2 linked regions of the Homo sapiens genome follow. The protein of the gene in region 2 purifies or fractionates together with the protein of the main gene of each other region. This does not show direct contact. Each region holds a gene or a part of one and is shown on either strand. Other genes may lie near its edges.

Region 1 (5,307 bases), about 100 Mb from region 2:
TGGAGGAAGGGAGAAAGAAACTGGCCAGGCATGGTGGCTCATGCCTGTAATCCCAGCACTTTGGGAGGCTGAGGTGGATGGATCACAAGGTCAGGAGTTCCAGACCAGCCTGGCCAACATGGTGAAACAGTCTCTACTAAAAATACAAAAATTAGCCGGGCGTGGTGGTGTGTGTCTGTAATCCCAGCTACTCAGGAGGCTGAGGCAAGACAATCGCTTGAACCCGGGAGGCAGCAGCTGCAGTGAGCAGCGATTGTGCCATTGCACCCCAGCCTGAGCAAGAGAGAGAGATTCCATCTCAAAAAACAGGAAACCAAATACTGCATAGCTCCTTCAAAATAGTGTTTTTTAAAAAAAAAATGTTGGGCCAGGTGCAGTGGCTCGGCTCACACCTGTAATACCATGAGTTGAAGACCAGCCTGGGCAATATATTAAAAAAGCCAGCGTGGTGGTGCATGCCTGGAGGCCTAGCTACTCGGGAGGCCAACGCGACAGGGTCACTTGAGCCCAAGGCGTTTTGAAGCTGCAGCGAGCTACAATCCCGCCACTGCACTACAGCCTGGGCGACAGAGTAAGAATCTGTCTCAAAAAAAAAAAAAAAAAAAAAAGTTATTTACATCATAAAACAGGACAAAAAGGAACATTTTTAAATAAAATCAAGTAAGCCAAAATATTACATCCAATATGTAAAAACATAACATCAATAACCCTTTACACTAAGAATGTCTAAACAAACTGAAGCACAGTTCCTTTTATTAGAACTTTTGTTGTTGTTTAAAGAGGCGGGGGCCAGGCACAGTGGCTCATGCCTGTAATGCCAGCACTTTGGGAGGCAGAGGTGGGAGAATCACCTGCGGTAAGGATTTCAAGCCCAGGCTGGCCAACATGGCAAAACCCCGTCCCTACTAAAAAATACAAAAATTAGCTGGGCATGGTGGCACGCACCTGTAGTCCCAGCTACGTGGGAGGCTGAGCCACAAGAACCACTTGAAGCCGGAAGCAGAGGGTGCAGTGAGCTGAGATCACACCACTGCACTTCAGCCTCAGCAAGAGAGCAAGACTCCGTAGCGAAAAATAAAGAGGTGGGGTCTCGCTGTGTCACCCAGACTGGAATGCAGTGGTCCAATCATAGCTCACTGTAGCCTGGAACTCTTGGCCTCAAGCAATCCTCCCTTCTTACCCTCCCAAGTAGTTGGGATTACAAGCATGAACCACTATATCCGTATATAAGGTTCTTATGAAAAGGTACCTGACACTATCACAGAATGTGGCTTAAGCCAGGTCACTTCAACCCTACTACTGTTTTATCACTGTTAATTCTCCAAAGTATTTTACTGTAAAAATTACTCACCTATAATACTCATTTAACAAATTTTACAGACTATTTTGTGCCATGAATGATCATGCTAGACTGGCTGTGGCAGAAACACTGGACACAACTTTATAGTGGTATCACAATGTACATTCATGTTCTCACACTGTGAGCAGCAGTTTGGTATAGTGAAAAGAATTCTGACCTAGAAAAAAAAAAATCTGGGTTGCAATTCCTGCTCTAACCTGCTTACAAATCCTTTTCAATTTTCAGATTAACAGAACCATGTGTTAGACCACGTAAACTTGATTCAATAAATAAATTATGCAATGTAAATATTTAGTTTTTTTTAAGATGAAAATAATACATTTTACTACTATAAAACATTTTAAGGCTACAGAGCCTCATAACCATTAAATTTTAAACATATTCTAATTTTAAAAAAAACAGCAAATATATTAAAACTGCAGTGTTACAAATGCAAAATGTCCTACACCAGGTCACAAGATTCTTTAATTTAAAAACAAACTACGTACACAGGAAATTTTCTAACAATTTCTTCCCTTTTATGAATACATATTCTGTAATTTTTAGAATAGAGAAATATGTTTTAACCAAAATCCCCAAAATGTCCACTTATCTCAAAAAAAAAAAATTCAGGTGACACGATTTAACTCCTTTTTTAGAAACAAAGTATCTCCTTGTAGACCTGTACCCAACAGGCTTTGTTACACAGACATACATATCAGTTTTCATATAAACTAAGAATTTAAGTTCTTTCAGAGAACTTATGCAGAGGTATTAAAGGTTTCTTTTTTTAAGTTGTGATTAAAGAGAAAACCCTCTATCAAGTATTTTTAATACATATTTTCTCATTTTTATATTTTAAGAACCCAACATCTGTTCACCATGAATTAAGAATTCAAAGAAAAAATAAAAATGCTTTAAACAACTGTGGCAAATTCTACCGTTTTAAGAGTATTACCATATTTAAAACATTTTATTAATGTGTAAAAGGGGGAAAAAAGCACTAAGGCCAAAGATTTACTGACATACTGTTTTCAATTAGTAAAACAAATCTTAAAATATTGAGAGATAATTATTGTCCATCTTTAATTTCCTTTCATGTGAAATTCAGAAGTAACATGTGTCCACTTTAGGTAACATTTATATATAAAAAGTTTATTAGAAATATAAAAAATTTTAAATTTTACACTATTTCCACCTTAAGATTCTTTTAGATAAAGCAGATGTGCCTTACGGTTCAAACACAATCTGATGTACAAAATCTTATTTAGTTCTTAGCAAAATAAATACAGAAACACAAATGATGAAATGATGGACTATTAATAACTTTAAAAACCCACCGTAAAAGTTTCCAAAAACCACCATTTGTTGTAGGTACCTAATATGGCAGTATTTACTGTAAAATACATGAAACAGCTTTCACTAAAATTTAATGTACTGGCTTATTACCAAGATCAACATTGTCATATTAAAATGCAAGTTGTGTGGTCTAAGTTTATGTTTCCAAACTTTTTGTCAACTAGACAAAGGAATCGAAAACTTTTTCTTAAAGGACCAGAGACAGGCTGAGTATCCCTTATCCGAAATGCTTGGGACCAGAAGTATTTCAGATTTTTGATTTTTTTCAGATTTTTGAGTATCTGCATATACATAATGAGACTCAGAAATGCGATCCAAGACTAAACATAAAGTTCATTTATATCTCACAAACACCTTATACACATAGACTGAAGGTAATTTTATACAACAGTTTTAATAATTTTGTGCATGAAACAAAGTCTTAATTGTTTTGACTATGACCAGTCACATGAGGTCAGGCGTGGAATTTTCCACTTGCAGCATGATGTCAGCACTCAGAAAGTTTTGAACTTTGGAGCATTTTTTATGTCAGATTTTTGGATTAGGGATTGCCAACCTGTAGTAAAAATTGGGGGCTTGCAGGACCTAAGGTCTCACCACTCAATTCTGCCACTGCAGGAGAAAGCAGGCATAGACAACATATAAATGGGTATGCTTGTGAGCTGTAGTTTGCTTGATGCTGAACAATACATAAATTCTGGACAACAGACTTATTATTTCAGGTGTCATATTTGAAGGTAGGAGCAACAATACAGATGGGCAGACATTAATAAATGAAAACCACAAATTAAAATTTTCACACTTATTACCCAGTCATAATTGGATGTTATGTGTATATATGTATACATACAAGTTATAAAGCTAGCTCATTTCAATTCCATATTCTTTTTGGTGTGTTAACAGTATCAAACCAACATCAGATAAGCAGCAAAAGGATTATGATTGATTGAGTACTCAGAAGTTAATCAAGGATCACGAAATCTGGTTTTGACATCTAAGTATTTCTACACAATGAAAAAACTTATTTACTGTGCTCTATATAGAAAATATCAGATGTATCTTTTCAGGTGTCATTTTAAAATTCAATTGAATTGTTACAATTTGAAGCTAAATGTGATTTGCTTTGTTTTATTAGAAAAAATACTCAAGCAAGGTCTACAATCATTGGTCAATTAAGAATGACTTACAAGAACATGAGGCAATAAAATAAAAATACAGGTACAAACTATGTATCTGAAACACTTCTATTTGGCAATTTTATAACAAATCAAATTTTAAAAAGAACAAAAGAGATTGCAGATTACTTCGCAGATACAGAATAAAGCAATTGATGAAGTGCTTAAGCAAAAGAAAACAACAAAAAAAGAAAACACACTGCTTTTCTTTTTAAAAATAAAATCACATTGCTATAGATCAAATGGATAATACCCTTATTAAACAACCATTCCAGAATGTCTTATAGTAGCAGTGCTTTTATTTGCACTTCACTTAATTTTATAAGACTCATTTTCATGTATATAGCTCTTTACCCCCATTGTTAACGAATAAAGTCTCTCATAATTTTTACACTTTTAAATTTTTTAAAGCAAATGAGAAATGATTTATGTATCGTGGAACCTTTCCCATTTTGGAACCAAAGGTTTTAATTCTATATTTTTGTCTAATATTTCTTTAAAAAATTTAGTGTAAAAACTGCTGGTTTTTATATCACTGTAGTAAAGTGAAAACTCCTCAACCAGGAGTATTTTCTGCAGTTTCACTGCATATAACCACATACTTTACAATGTCCTTCCAACAGTAAGGAAATAACTGATTTCTTGATCACTGTCAGAAATGAGTGCCATAATTCTATTATGGGTATAGGTCCTCCCTCAAAGACTTTCTGGAAGGATGTTCAATGTGTTTTGTTCTTAGAGATATTAACAGTAGTACATAGTCCCTTAAGTCTGTGAAAGACATTTATTGTTAAAGAAGGTGCTTTTATTAACAATTCCTCTGGCAGCACTAGTGAAGTACAATATCCTTCAATATTATTTCTACCATAATATATACATTTAACTTTCATGCCTCTAGAAAACATCTACAGTACATTTCAAAATATAAAAATATATTACAAATCTGCTGAATTATTTACAAGCAATGTTCTATTATCTCTATGCAACATTTGTTTAATACAATACTAACAAGTTACACATATTTCCATTTCTGTAAGTTAAAAAAAATCGATATGGCTTCTTGCTTACCAAGCAAGAAAGTGATTTTATTTTCCTTTTCAAGACCAACTTTGGTGCATAAAAGATTCAGTTTGAAGATACTTGTAAAAAAAATACAATTTTTCTTACATTAAGAAAAAACAACTCAAAAACCAAATGATTTCCTCAGAAAAAAAATTAGAGTCATATAGGTTAAATGAAAATATGAAGATTATTCAAATAATTTGAAAGGTTTTTCAAAAACCGTTAACAGATTAGTTATATAGGTAAATATTAACATACTGTACTCCATGAGAAAGCCCTAGTCCTGAAAAGGGAGCCACCAGACATACTGCAACACTCTTTAACAGTAATTTTCAGCCCTAATTCGATAGACGAATTTTTAGTTGATTGCAA
Region 2 (5,571 bases):
GCTGGGCTACTCTGGAGGCTGAGGGAGGAGAATTCTTTGAGCCTGAGAGGAGGTTGCAATGAGCCGAGATCACACCACTGCACTCCAGCCTGGGCAACAGAGCAAGACTCCATCTCAAAAAATAAAAAAAAAAAAGTCAACAACAACAAAACCAAAAGACTGGCCACCAAACAGAATCAGGAGTTCCTGGCCCTTTGGCCTCTCCTCACTGCCCAGAGGACAGAAAAGCCACTCTAAGCAACAGTGGACTCACCAGTAGGTTTTGCTCAGATACTGAAAATAGTACATGTAGCAGCCCGTGGAAGGGTCCTGTGCGTACAGAGCCTCCCGTTTCTTGGCGTCGGTGATCTCGATGAGGTCCCCGTGGTATTCCACCACAAAGTCACCCCGGGAGAACTGCTTGGTGGCAATCACACCCCTGCCTTTGCCATCGATGAGGTCAATCTGTCAGGTGATAAGAGAGGGTGTTGGTTCATAATAGCAATGGATGCCACTGTGCACAGCAGGTCTCCGGGGAGCTGGGGCTTACCCCAGTCTTTAACAGCTGTACTGAGCCATGTCATAAAATTCACTCACTTTACATGTACAGGCTGATGGGTTTTATGAAGTGTATACAGCTGTGCAACCGTCACTACAGGCCAGCTCTAGAACGTTCCCTCACTCCACAAACGTGGTTCCTTGGTGCTCATCTGCAAAGCAGTTACATCAGAGCTCGTGAGAGATCTGCTAGGTGGAGACTGCCCCATTTTGTAGATGAGGAAACTGAGGCTTAAAGAGGCACAACCACGTGTCTGAGGCCACACAGCTAGACAGTGACACAGCTCAAATCCACACACCTGGTTTCTCTGTCTAGGGGCTATGCGCTATGCCTTCCTAGGCAAACAGCAGGCCCAGTGTTCTGGGTCTCTACCTCATTCCACGATTTCTCTCCTGTGTCTCCTCACTCTATTCTACATGGAGTTGAATGGGGTTGCTGGAGGGGCCCAGGACTTAAGCCGGAATCCCCCTAGGTGGTGGGTGGAAGTGGAAGCTTTCTGAACCCGGAGCCCTAGTCTAGGCCCATCTGAACCCCACTGTAGAGAGTACTTCTCCTCTCGCCCAAACTGAGTGTGGTTGAAATACAGTAAGAGAAAAGCACATTTCTTGGGCATTGTCATTATCTAGGAAAACAGTTTAAAAATGTATTAGTTTCTCCTTTTAAAAGTTTCCCTGGGCATCAGCTACATATTGTATAATCCGATTTATATGAAGTGCCCAGAAGAGCAACTCCACTGAGACAGAAAGCAGCTGAGTGGCTGCCAGGGGCTGGGCAGGGGAGAGGTGGGGATGGTGGGCAGTGGTAAGTAATGGGTAAGGGTTTCCATTTGGGAGGATGAAAAAATTCTGAAATTAGACAGGGATAATGGTTGCATTGCATTGTGAATGTACAAAAAGCCACTGAATTGTTTAACCACAATTTCTAAGAAAAGCTTCCCCTGGATAACATTTATATACAAAGCCCATTTATGTTTCCTTCATAAGACATTTCCTTAACAACTTTTGGTATTTGGCTCTTTGACAACCTAATAGAGTCTGCCTGGTCACCATGGCCATTAGAGGGTGAAAGCCACATGGTGGCCACTCTCAGCCACGGGACCAGGGAAGGTGAGCTCTTCCAGCTTTAGCTATGATGCAGCAAGCACAGCAGCCCCTTACCTTCATTCCTTCTTCCTTCCCACTTTCAATCAATTCATCTATTCTTTTCCTTTCTTCAGACTGGGCAGAGAGAAAGAAAAACAGCATCAGTATCTTCTCCTAGGCCCATCGTGCGTAGCTTGATGGTCTTGAGCCCTGATTGCCCAGGCCATGCCCACCGGGCCACAATCGGCCTCATTTGGCATCACTGGGGATGATGGGTCCCCAGTGATGGCAAAGCCCCCAAGTATCCCTCCTTTTCTCATCACCCATCTGTTGTGGAAGATCTGTCACCTGGGGTTCAACTGGATCAGGAGGGAAACAGTGGGGACCCAAGAACAGAATGGGGCTCGTAGATATGTTCTGTTGCCCATGCAGCACGTTAAAAAATGTCCAACTTGCCCACACCTGAAAATCAGGCCTCTGACTTCACAGAAAATCAGGTACAGTGGGCCAGGCGCGGTGGCTCACGCCTGTAATCGCAACACTTCGGGAGGCCGAGGCGGGCGGATCGTAAGGTCACGAGTTCGAGACCAGCCTGGCAAATAGGTAAAACCCTGTCTCTATTAAAGATACAAAAATTAGCCAGGTGTGGTAGGAGCCTGTAGTCCCAGCTACTCGGGAGGCTGAGGCAGGAGAATCGCTTGAACCTGGGAGGTGGAGGTTGCAGTGAGCCAAGATTGTGCTACTGCACTCCAGCCTGGGCGACACAGCAAGACTCCACCTTAAAAAGAAAAAAGAAAATCGGGTACAGCAGATCAGAGGCTGTGCCCTTTGGATGGGACACACGCAGTCCACATGGCTCTGGTCTGATGGCTCATACTTCTGTTTGGGATCGCTGAGATTCACCTGTATGGAGGCCACCACGATGGATGAGAAGAGGGCCTCCAATCCCGAGGGTCAATACAGACCTGAACAGAGAACTGGGAGGGGGCACCCCTGGATCCACCTCTCCTCTAAGGCCACCCCTCCTGCACCTACCTCCATCCCTAACCCTGGGTTCTACTGCTCTGCCACTGCACAGATACTACAGAGCAAAAGGGAACCAAATGAAGACAGATCGGAAGCTCCAAACCAGTGTGGCTCACCCCAAACCAGCATGTCTTGACGGCATAGACTTTCACCAAACCAGATGGCACGTGTCAGGAGCCTGACACCAACTGCTGAGCTCAGCCCATTCCCCCTACACAGAGGCCCAAACCAGCTTGCAGCTTTTCCAGGCACTCAATCCACACCTGCAATGTGCCAGGCGCTGCAGTCTGTGCTGGGAACAATGGTGAATGAGTAACCTCAAGGACAGTCCCAAATCCTGCCACCTCCTCTCCATCTCCATTCCCACTGCGGCCCTGCAGCCCAGCCACGGCCCCGGCCCCGCTCCGGCCCCCTTGCTAGTCACCAGGCTTTCACTCTGACCCCAGGGAACACTCAGTTCTCCACAAGGTAGCCAGAGGGGTCTTTTAAAATGTAAATGAGGCCAGGGGCAGTGGCTCTCTCCTGTAATCCCAACACTTCAGGAAAGCCAGGAGGAAGGATCGCTTAAGGACAGGAGTTAGAGACCAGCCTAAGCAACAGATCCAGACCCTGTCCCTACAAAAAATAAATAAGCTAGGTGTGGTGGCGTACACCTTTGGTCCCAGCTACTCTAGAGGCTGAGGAAGGAGGAGGATTGCTGGAGCCCAGGAGGTTGAGGCTGCAGTGAGTCATGACTGTGACACTGCACTCCTGCCTGGGCAACAGAGTGAGACCCTGTCTTAAAAAAAAACAGAAAACATGACCAGGCATGGTGGCTCACGTCTGTCATCCCAGCACTTTGGGAGGCTGAGGTGGGTGGATCACTTGAGGTTACGAGTTTGAGACCAGCCTGGCCAACATGGCGAAACCCCGTCTCTACTAAAAACACAAAAATTAGCTGGGCGTGGTGGCACACACCTGTAATCCCGGCTACTCAGGAGGCTGAGGCAGGAGAATCGCTTGAACCCAGGAGGTGGAGTTTGCAGTAGGCCAAGATCGCACCACTGCACTCCAGCCTGGGAGACAGAGCAAGACTCCATCTCAAAAAGAAACAAAAAACAAAAAAAAACCTTCCCATAAACTTATTTAATAGTAATATACCTAACAAAACCTCACATATCAATATTAACCTTAAACATAAATGGACTAAAATGTTCCACTTAAAAGATATGAAAGATAAGGGTCAAGAAGGTTAAAAAAAAAAGAAAGATATACACCTGTTATCCCAGCACTTTGGGAGGCCGAGGCGGGCGGATCACGAAGTCAGGAGATCGAGACCATCCTGGCTAACATGGTGAAACCCCATCTCTACTAAAAATACAAAAAATTAGCCGGGCATGGTGGTGGGCACCTGTAGTCCCAGCTACTCGGGAGGCTGAGGCAGGAGAATGGTGTGAGCCCGGGAGGCGGAGCTTGCAGTGAGCCAAGATCGCGCCACTGCACTCCAGCCTTGGCAACAGAGCAAGACTCCATCTCAAAAAAAAAAAAAAAAAAAAAAGAAAGATATATATTGGTGGAATAGATTTAAAAAAAACAACAACAAAACTTGGTCAGGTACAGTGGCTCATGCCTGTAATCCCAGCAGTTTGGGAGGCCAAGGCAGGTGGATCACCTGAGGTCAGGAGTTCGAGACCAGCCTGGCCAACATGACGAAACCCTGTCTCTACTAAAAATACAAAAATCAGCCGGGCATAGTGGTGCACACTTGTAATCCAAGCTACTTGGGAGTCTCAGGCCAGGAGGCGGAGGTTAGTAAGCCATAATCATGCCACTGTACTCCAGCCTGGGCAACAGAGTGAGACCTTGTCTCAAAACAAAAAACAAAAAACAAAAAAAAAACTTCAACCAACAGTAATATACCAATGTTGGTTGTTACTTAGCTGTGACAAATTCACCAGAGTAACTTAAGTGAGAGAAGATGGGTAAGGAGTCTGGGGAACTCTCTGTATTATCTTTGCAACTTTTCTATAAAATTAAAATTATTGGCCAGGCGCGGTGGCTCACATCTGTAATCCTAGCACTTTGGGAGGCCAAGGTGGGCGGATCACAAGGTCAGGAGTTTGAGGCCAGCCTGACCAACATGGTGAAACTCTGTCTCTACTAAAAACACAAAAATTAGCTGGGCGTGGTGGCAAGCGCCTATAATCCCAGCTACTTGGGAGGTTGAGGCAGGAGAATTGCTTGAACCTGGGAGGTGGAGGTTGCAGTGAGCCGAGATCGCACACCTGCACTCCAGCGCGGGCTACAGAGTGAGACTCTGTCTCAAAAAAAAAAAAATTGCAAAATAAAAACATTTTAAAAACTTTTTGGCTGGGCACGGTGGCTCACGCCTGTAATCCCAGCACTTTGGGAGGCCGAGGCGGGCGGATCACAAGGTCAGGAGATCGAGACCATCCTGGCTAACACGGTGAAACCCCGTCTCTACTAAAAACACCAAAAATTAGCCGGGCGTGGTGGCAGGCGCCTGTAGTCCCAGCTACTTGGGAGGCCTTTTTAATTATTTTTTAAGATGGGGTCTCACGGCCGGGCTCAGTGGCTCACGCCTGTAATCCCAGCACTTTGGGAGGCCGAGGCAAGTGGATCATGAGGTCAGGCATTTTGAGACCAGCCTGGCCAACGCAGTGAAACCCTGTCTCTACTAAAAATACAAAATCAGCTGGGCATGGTGGTGGGCGCCTGTAATCCCAGGTACTCAGGAGACTGAGGCAGGAGAATCACTTGAACCCGGGAGGTGGAGGCTGCAGTGAGCCAAGATCGCGCCATTGCACTCCAGCCTAGGTGACAGTGTGAGACTCTGTCTCGAAAAAAACAAAACAACAAAAAACCCACAAAAGATGGGGTCTCACAATGTTGCCCAGGTTGGTACTGAACTTCTGTTCTCAAGTA

What was found.
Region 1: the proteins of KMT5A (region 2) and AEBP2 purify together in Homo sapiens (co-purification; one study listed by BioGRID). This does not show direct contact.

The regions. Positions count from the first base shown.
Region 1 is NC_000012.12:19,518,728-19,524,034, reverse strand, and holds the end of AEBP2 (zinc finger protein AEBP2), read right to left. Parts: 3' UTR 1,808-5,307; downstream 1-1,807. UniProt on the Homo sapiens protein: Acts as an accessory subunit for the core Polycomb repressive complex 2 (PRC2), which mediates histone H3K27 (H3K27me3) trimethylation on chromatin leading to transcriptional repression of the affected target gene.
Region 2 is NC_000012.12:123,399,757-123,405,327, reverse strand, and holds part of KMT5A (N-lysine methyltransferase KMT5A), read right to left. Parts: intron 1,756-5,571; coding exon 1,696-1,755; intron 690-1,695; exon of another isoform or gene 577-689; intron 445-576; coding exon 254-444; intron 1-253. UniProt on the Homo sapiens protein: Protein-lysine N-methyltransferase that monomethylates both histones and non-histone proteins. Specifically monomethylates 'Lys-20' of histone H4 (H4K20me1).